2 linked regions of the Homo sapiens genome follow. The protein of the gene in region 1 interacts with the protein of each later gene in a biochemical or structural test. Each region holds a gene or a part of one and is shown on either strand. Other genes may lie near its edges.

Region 1 (3,500 bases):
TTGAGGCACAAAAAGGTTAACTAGAGCACTGTCAGAGTTGCAAATGGTAGACTGGGAATAAAAGCTCAGGAACTGCAATTCCAGACCTCATGCCATTAACTATTACCATATTCTTGATATTTTAGCAATTTACCAGCTGAAATTTAAGCTGTGTGAAGGTTTTTCAGATAACCTAGAATAACTTTTCAAGTTTAAATTGTGACTCAGAGTTAGTATTATGGTAGCTAATAACCCTCAAAATTGCAATTTCTTACAGAGCTGAATGCCAAGAAAATTGAGTTTGAACAATTTCTGCCTATGATGCAAGCCATTTCCAACAACAAGGACCAGGCCACCTATGAAGACTTTGTTGAGGGTCTGCGTGTCTTTGACAAGGAAGGCAATGGCACAGTCATGGGTGCTGAACTCCGCCATGTTCTAGCCACCCTGGGTAAGGGAATTTATTTCAGTGGACTTAGTGAGACAGAATATATAGAAAAGAACATGACAGGAGAATCATGTCACTACCAAAATAGGAGGAAAGACTACAAAGGGAAAATGGGAAAAAAAAATAGTCAAAAGTTAATGACCATTTCAATTGGCCTCAGTGGCAGTGAGTTTGGTGAAAATGTTAACTTAAAATATTGGTAATGAATAAGTAAAGGAAAGCATGGTAGTTCTTACAGGACACTTTGTATGACAACAGATAATGTGTATTTAATTAACTCATTCAAAAACCAATTAGTTGACAATATATTAAGTACCAAAAGAATGGGAAAGTCACAGTTCCTATATGTCAAGAGTTTAGTCTCCAGAGCCCTTGACTGATGACCTATGGTGGATTTTGAAAATAACACATGGCCTTCTTTCTGAAAGGAGAGTTTTGTTTCATCAGGTGAAAAGATGAAAGAGGAAGAAGTGGAAGCCCTGATGGCAGGTCAAGAAGACTCCAATGGCTGCATCAACTACGAAGGTAGAATCAATGCTCACTGGTGGTTACAGCAACTCTTAACTGATCAGATTGATGATGGGCTCCTTTTGAGCTTCTTTTCCTCTTCCTTCCTTATTGACATACATATGACAATCAATTGCATAACTCTAAAAAGATATGTGAGGATCTGAACATATAAATAACATTTATTCCAGTGTGTTTTAGCAATACTGTGCATTGTTTTAAAGCTAAAAATGTGTTTTCACATATATTTTTTGTTAGATCTTCAGAACATCCCTATGAGTTAGACAGGGCTGATGTCAGAATCAAATTTAATAGAATATTAAACTTGAAGAAATCTCAAAGTCATTTACTAATATGAAGCAATTATGAAAATGAAACTTCGGGCCAAATAGGTTTAGTTACTTGGTGAAGGTCAAATCACTAATGGCCAGGCTGGTGGTAAAATTTACTTCTTTTCCTTGTCTAGTGTTCTTGCTTACATGAAAGTCAGCCCACAGTTGCCAATTGTTTAATTCCTACTACCAATTTACAGCAGCTTCACCCAGAGGGTGTGAAAGCAATGCACTACAGAAAACAAAGATGCATAATATAATTTACAAATTTAAAAATTTTTTAATTTGTAAGAAAATTTAAAAATGTTTCTATCCCCAAAGAGAATGAATCAAGTTACATATAAATAAAGACAAAAAGAGAAAAACAAAGAAGAGAAGAGAATGAGAGGGGAAGAAAGGAGAAGAAAGGAAAGGAGGGAGAAGAGGACAAAAAGAAAGGGCTTAGCCAAGCATATCTTCACTGACAATCTTGATTAAACTTCACTTTTTTCCCCGTCGACAATTCTTCACATTTGGCTATTACCGTAAATACACTCCATAGAGAATCATTCAATAAATACTGTTTGAACAAGTGGACAGTCATCTAGAAAATAAAGTCAAATCTGAATTTTATGCCAAGACAAATTTCAAATAATTTACATGTGAAATGTAAAAGCTAAAAACATAAAGAGCACAAAAATCACAGAAGAATTAATTTTATAACTTTGGAGTGGTTACGTTTTTTCTAACAGTGACACAAAAACCAGACGGCATTGAAAATCTTGACAAATTTAATCACATACTTTAAAAAATCTATATGGCAAAAGCCACCAAAGCAAAGTCAAAAGACAGCAAACCAGAAAAAAAAAAAATTCAATTAATACCAGAAAGAGCTAATTTTCCTAATAAAAAAGAACTACTACAAATTAATAAAAGATCATATCCAATAGAAAATTAGCAAGTACATGAACAGACAATTCATAGGAAATAAAATGAATAAAATAAGATGACAAACTACATTAATAATTTTTAAAAAGCAAATTAAAACTACACTGACAGCTGGGCGTGGTGGCTCACGCCTGTAAATCCAGCAGTTTGGGAGGCCCAGGTAGGTAGATCACTTGAAGTCAGGAGTTCCAGACCAGACTGGCCAGCATGGTGAAACCCTGTCTCTACTAAAAATACAAAAATTAGCTGGGCGTGATGGCACACAGTAGCCTGTAGTCCCAGCTACTCAGAAGGCTGAGGCACGAGAATCGCTTGAACCCGGGAGGTGGAGTTTGCAGTGAGTGAAGATCGCGTTACTGCACTCCAGCCTGGGTGGCAGAGCAAGACTCCATCTCAAATAATAATAATAATATAAAACTACACTGAGATATCATTTTTCAATAAGCTGATTGCCAAAGATTAAATGTTTGGGCACACTTTGGGCTGAGGAGAGGGTGTGGAAACAGGCAATTTCATGTATCACTGATGGGAATGCATGTTGTTAAAACCCCTAGGTTATGGTGTGGTACTACTAATTGCAGCAAATCTACTTCTGGAGAGACTTAGTCTCTAGATATACTTTCACTCAAATGAGATGACCATATATAGATGGTTATTCATTACTGTGCTGTTCATAACTGCCAAATTTTTTTAACAATTTAATGTCCATCAAAGTATAATTTCATCAATGTATCAATGTGAAAACAATCGAATGTCTATCAATGTATCAATGTGAAATTCTCTGCAGCCCTAAAAAATAGGGACACTCTTGTGTACAGTTATAATATCTGTAAGATAAATTATTAATTGAAAAAAGGAATACAAAACAATGTATAGAGTATGCCATTTTTTGTGTAAAAAGATTTTTAGAAACATATTTATGTGGTCTTGTATATGCATAAACAGCTCTGTCAATTTAGCAGTAAAAAGGGGAACCAGTTGCCTAGCAGACAGTGATGGGAAACATTTTGTTGTTATATACCCTTTCATACGTTAAAGAAAATATTTTAACCATAGCTGGGCACAGTGACATGTGCCCGTAGTCCCAGCTGCTTGGGAGGCTAAAGCAGGAGGATTGCTTGAGCCCAGGAGTTTGAGTCAAGCCTTGACAACACAATGAGACCCTATGTTAAAAATAAAAATGTATGTGAATGTACCACTTATTCAAAAAATTAATTTGCAAAATCAGGGCAAAGGTCATAAATCCACTACTAAGAATTATGAGCTATACACACCTTAAATACAAAAGAAAAGAAACTATTGTTACA
Region 2 (2,905 bases), on another chromosome or scaffold:
TGAGGCCCCAGGGCCCCCAGCCCCACTCTACCAGCCACCCTCGTCCTTCCGAGGAGACCCACCCGACTGGCTTCCTCGGCCTTCCACTCTGAGCAAGCAGTGTCTTCTCATTCTCCCTCCACTTCTCTGTCGGTAAAATGGGCATCAGAGGCTGCTGCTGACTTCCCAGAGCTGCCTAGTGAATTTTGAGGTGGCTTCTTGCCTGGCTGCCAGCAGTGGGCTCAGATTCTCCTTGTGGTCCAGCTCACAGGACACAGTCGGCTCCACCTAGCATGACTGAGTGACTTCTGCCGGCTCAGAAAGTGCTCCGTGGGCATCAGCGTTTCAGCAGGGGTCCCACGCTGAGCCCAGGGGCAGCTTTTGTGCTCTAGCACTCCAGCACAGGGATGTCAGCATTCTCATGGGGGTCTTTTTCTAGCAACTGTGAGCATGCTTCCTAGAGGAGAAACCAATGGGGACAGGGGCCGCCTTGGCCCGGGGAGCTGCAGAAAGTTTTTACTTACCAAAAGCTTTCTATGCAATCCTGGAAAGAACAGGCCCTGGGATCACAGCCCTCCCAGGCCAGGTGCAGCCTACAAACCTGGTGTCCTAATAAACAGTGCTGCCCCACGGCCCAGGAATACAGCACCCGTGTTTACCTTGACTGTGCATTTCAGGAAAATGGTGCAGTGAGAAAAAAGGGCCCAAGGTTGTCCTCCCAGGACTGGGTCTGAGGGAAACAGCTCTGGCCTGCTCTTAACCTTTATCTATATTGCTTACTTCATTGGGCCTCAGTTTCCCCACTGGGCATTACTCACAGGATGCAAACTGGGCATCCTGTGGGCTGGAGTGCAATGGTGTGATCTTGGCTCACTGCAACCTCTGCCTCCCAGGCTCAAGTGATTCTCTGTCCTCAGCCTCCCGAGTAGCTGGGGCTAAGGTGTGCACCACCTCACCCGGCTAATTTTTGTATTTTTTGTAAAGATGGGGTTTCACCATGTTGCCCAGGCTGGTCTTGAACTTCTGAGTTCAAGCTATCCACCTGCCTTGGCCTCCTAAAGTGCTGAGATTGCAGGTGTGAGCCACTGCACCCAGCATCAGACCATTATATTAAAAACAACAACAACAACAAAAAACTGCAAAATTTAAAAATTAAGAGATTCCCTATGAAAACCCAGATTTCTGGCTTTTCTTGAAAAGTTGGAAGCTCCAGGCAGTGCAGGGTCCGGATTCCTGCCTGGCAGCCCTCAGGTGGGGTGAGTGGCAGCTGCCCCCTTACACGTGGGCATTTGCTCCCTGTTCTCCCCAGTCTCTACCCCTCCCTCACTGAGAGGCAACTGCTGTGTAAGTGTGATAGGGCTTGGGCGGCAGCCTTTCTGCACCTGATCCTGTTTCACCCATTTGTTTTCCTGCCTGCCACCTGTGGGTATTTGAGTTTATAAACCCTGTGTCTAGTGGGGAGTAGGAGTCTAAATGCCTAGTTCTGGGCCCACCCTGGCCCGTTGTCTCATTTCTGCCACCAGAGCGGCAGGCGCAGGCTGTGAGGCTCACCGATGTCCCTCCTGACCCTCCCTCCCCGCAGTGGGCCACCACCATCCTGGACATTGAGCGCTCCTTCCCCGTATTCCTGAGGAAGGCCTTCCGCTCTGGGGAGATGGTCACCGTGGGCAAGAGCTCGGACGGCACTCCTGACCGCAGGTGGTGCTTCAGGTGAGGCTGGGGCAGTGGGGCCAGGATGGCAGGGCGGAACTGTCCCCACTGGCTCGGGGCCCCTGCTGCTCCAGCGTCGTCTACCCATTGCAATTTCTGGAGCCACTGAGGCCCCAAGAGGCCCGAGCAGAGTTCATTTCCACCAGGCGATCTCAGGCAAGTCAGCCCACCTCTCTCAGCCTCAGTTTCTTCATCTGTGGAATGAGACAATGATCTCACGGGCTCCTAGGCTGGCGGTGCGGATTAGACAGGTCAGCACGTGAGAAGTGCTCAGCCAGTGCCCGACGCGCATCGGGACGCCACAGGCTCCCCTGTTCTTGCTCAGGGGGAAGCAGAGACTTGGATGGTGGGTTCATTTTAGAGCATCACCCTGTATCTACCAAACAGTGGGGTGAGCTCTAGTGCCCTCGGTGAAATGGGAAGCTGAGGAATGTGCAGTTTCCAGGGCTGGAGACCTCACCCAGCCCATCTGCAGAATGACTCCGTGTTCCAGAGGCACAGGGAGTGCCAGCTTCTTAGGGGAACCCCTTCATGAATCTTTTCTTTCCAGTTGATTCATTCATTGTAAAGTGGTTGTCAGCATGGAGCATAAGCAGAATGTTTGGAGTCAGACAAAGTCAGTTTCTTCATCTGTGAAATGGGAACAATAATAGAACCCACCTCCTAGGCCATCCGATCAGTTCAATTCCATTTTTTGTTTGTTTTTAGAGGCAGGGTTGCTCAGGCTGGAGTGCAGTGGTGTGATCATAGCTGACTGCAGCCTCCAACTCCTGGTCTCAAGCGATCCTCCCACCTCAGCCTCCTCATGCCACCATGTCCGACCAATTTTTAATTTTTTTGTAGAGATGGGGTTCTTGCTATGTTGCCCAGGCTGGTCTCAAACTCCTGGTCTCAAGCGATCTTCCCACCTCAGCCTCCCAAAATGCTGGGATTACAGGCGTGAGCCACCACACCCAGCCTCTGTTCAGTTTGAATCCAAAGCTCAAATCTTGGCTGGGTGTGGTGGCTCGTGCTTGTAATCCCAGCACTTTGGGAGGCCAAGGTGGGTGGATCACCTGAGGTCAGGAGTTTGAGACCACCCTGGGCAACATGGTGAAACCCTGTCTCCACTAAAAATACAAAAATTAGTCGGGAGTGGTGGCATGCACCTGTAATCCCAGCTACTCGGGAGGCTGAGGCAGGAGAATCGCTTGAACCTGGTAGGTGGAGGTTGCAG

Evidence for each region. Proteins that work in one complex are often made in the same cells at the same time.
Region 2: the proteins of MYL1 (region 1) and TRPV4 interact in a test that uses a peptide from one of them, tested with the Homo sapiens proteins (one large-scale study listed by BioGRID).

Annotation. Positions count from the first base shown.
Region 1 is NC_000002.12:210,291,175-210,294,674, reverse strand, and holds part of MYL1 (myosin light chain 1/3, skeletal muscle isoform), read left to right. Parts: intron 1-256; coding exon 257-430; intron 431-874; coding exon 875-952; intron 953-3,500. UniProt on the Homo sapiens protein: Non-regulatory myosin light chain required for proper formation and/or maintenance of myofibers, and thus appropriate muscle function.
Region 2 is NC_000012.12:109,785,494-109,788,398, reverse strand, and holds part of TRPV4 (transient receptor potential cation channel subfamily V member 4), read left to right. Parts: intron 1-1,502; coding exon of another isoform or gene 1,503-1,523; exon of another isoform or gene 1,524-1,561; coding exon 1,562-1,689; intron 1,690-2,905. UniProt on the Homo sapiens protein: Non-selective calcium permeant cation channel involved in osmotic sensitivity and mechanosensitivity. Activation by exposure to hypotonicity within the physiological range exhibits an outward rectification.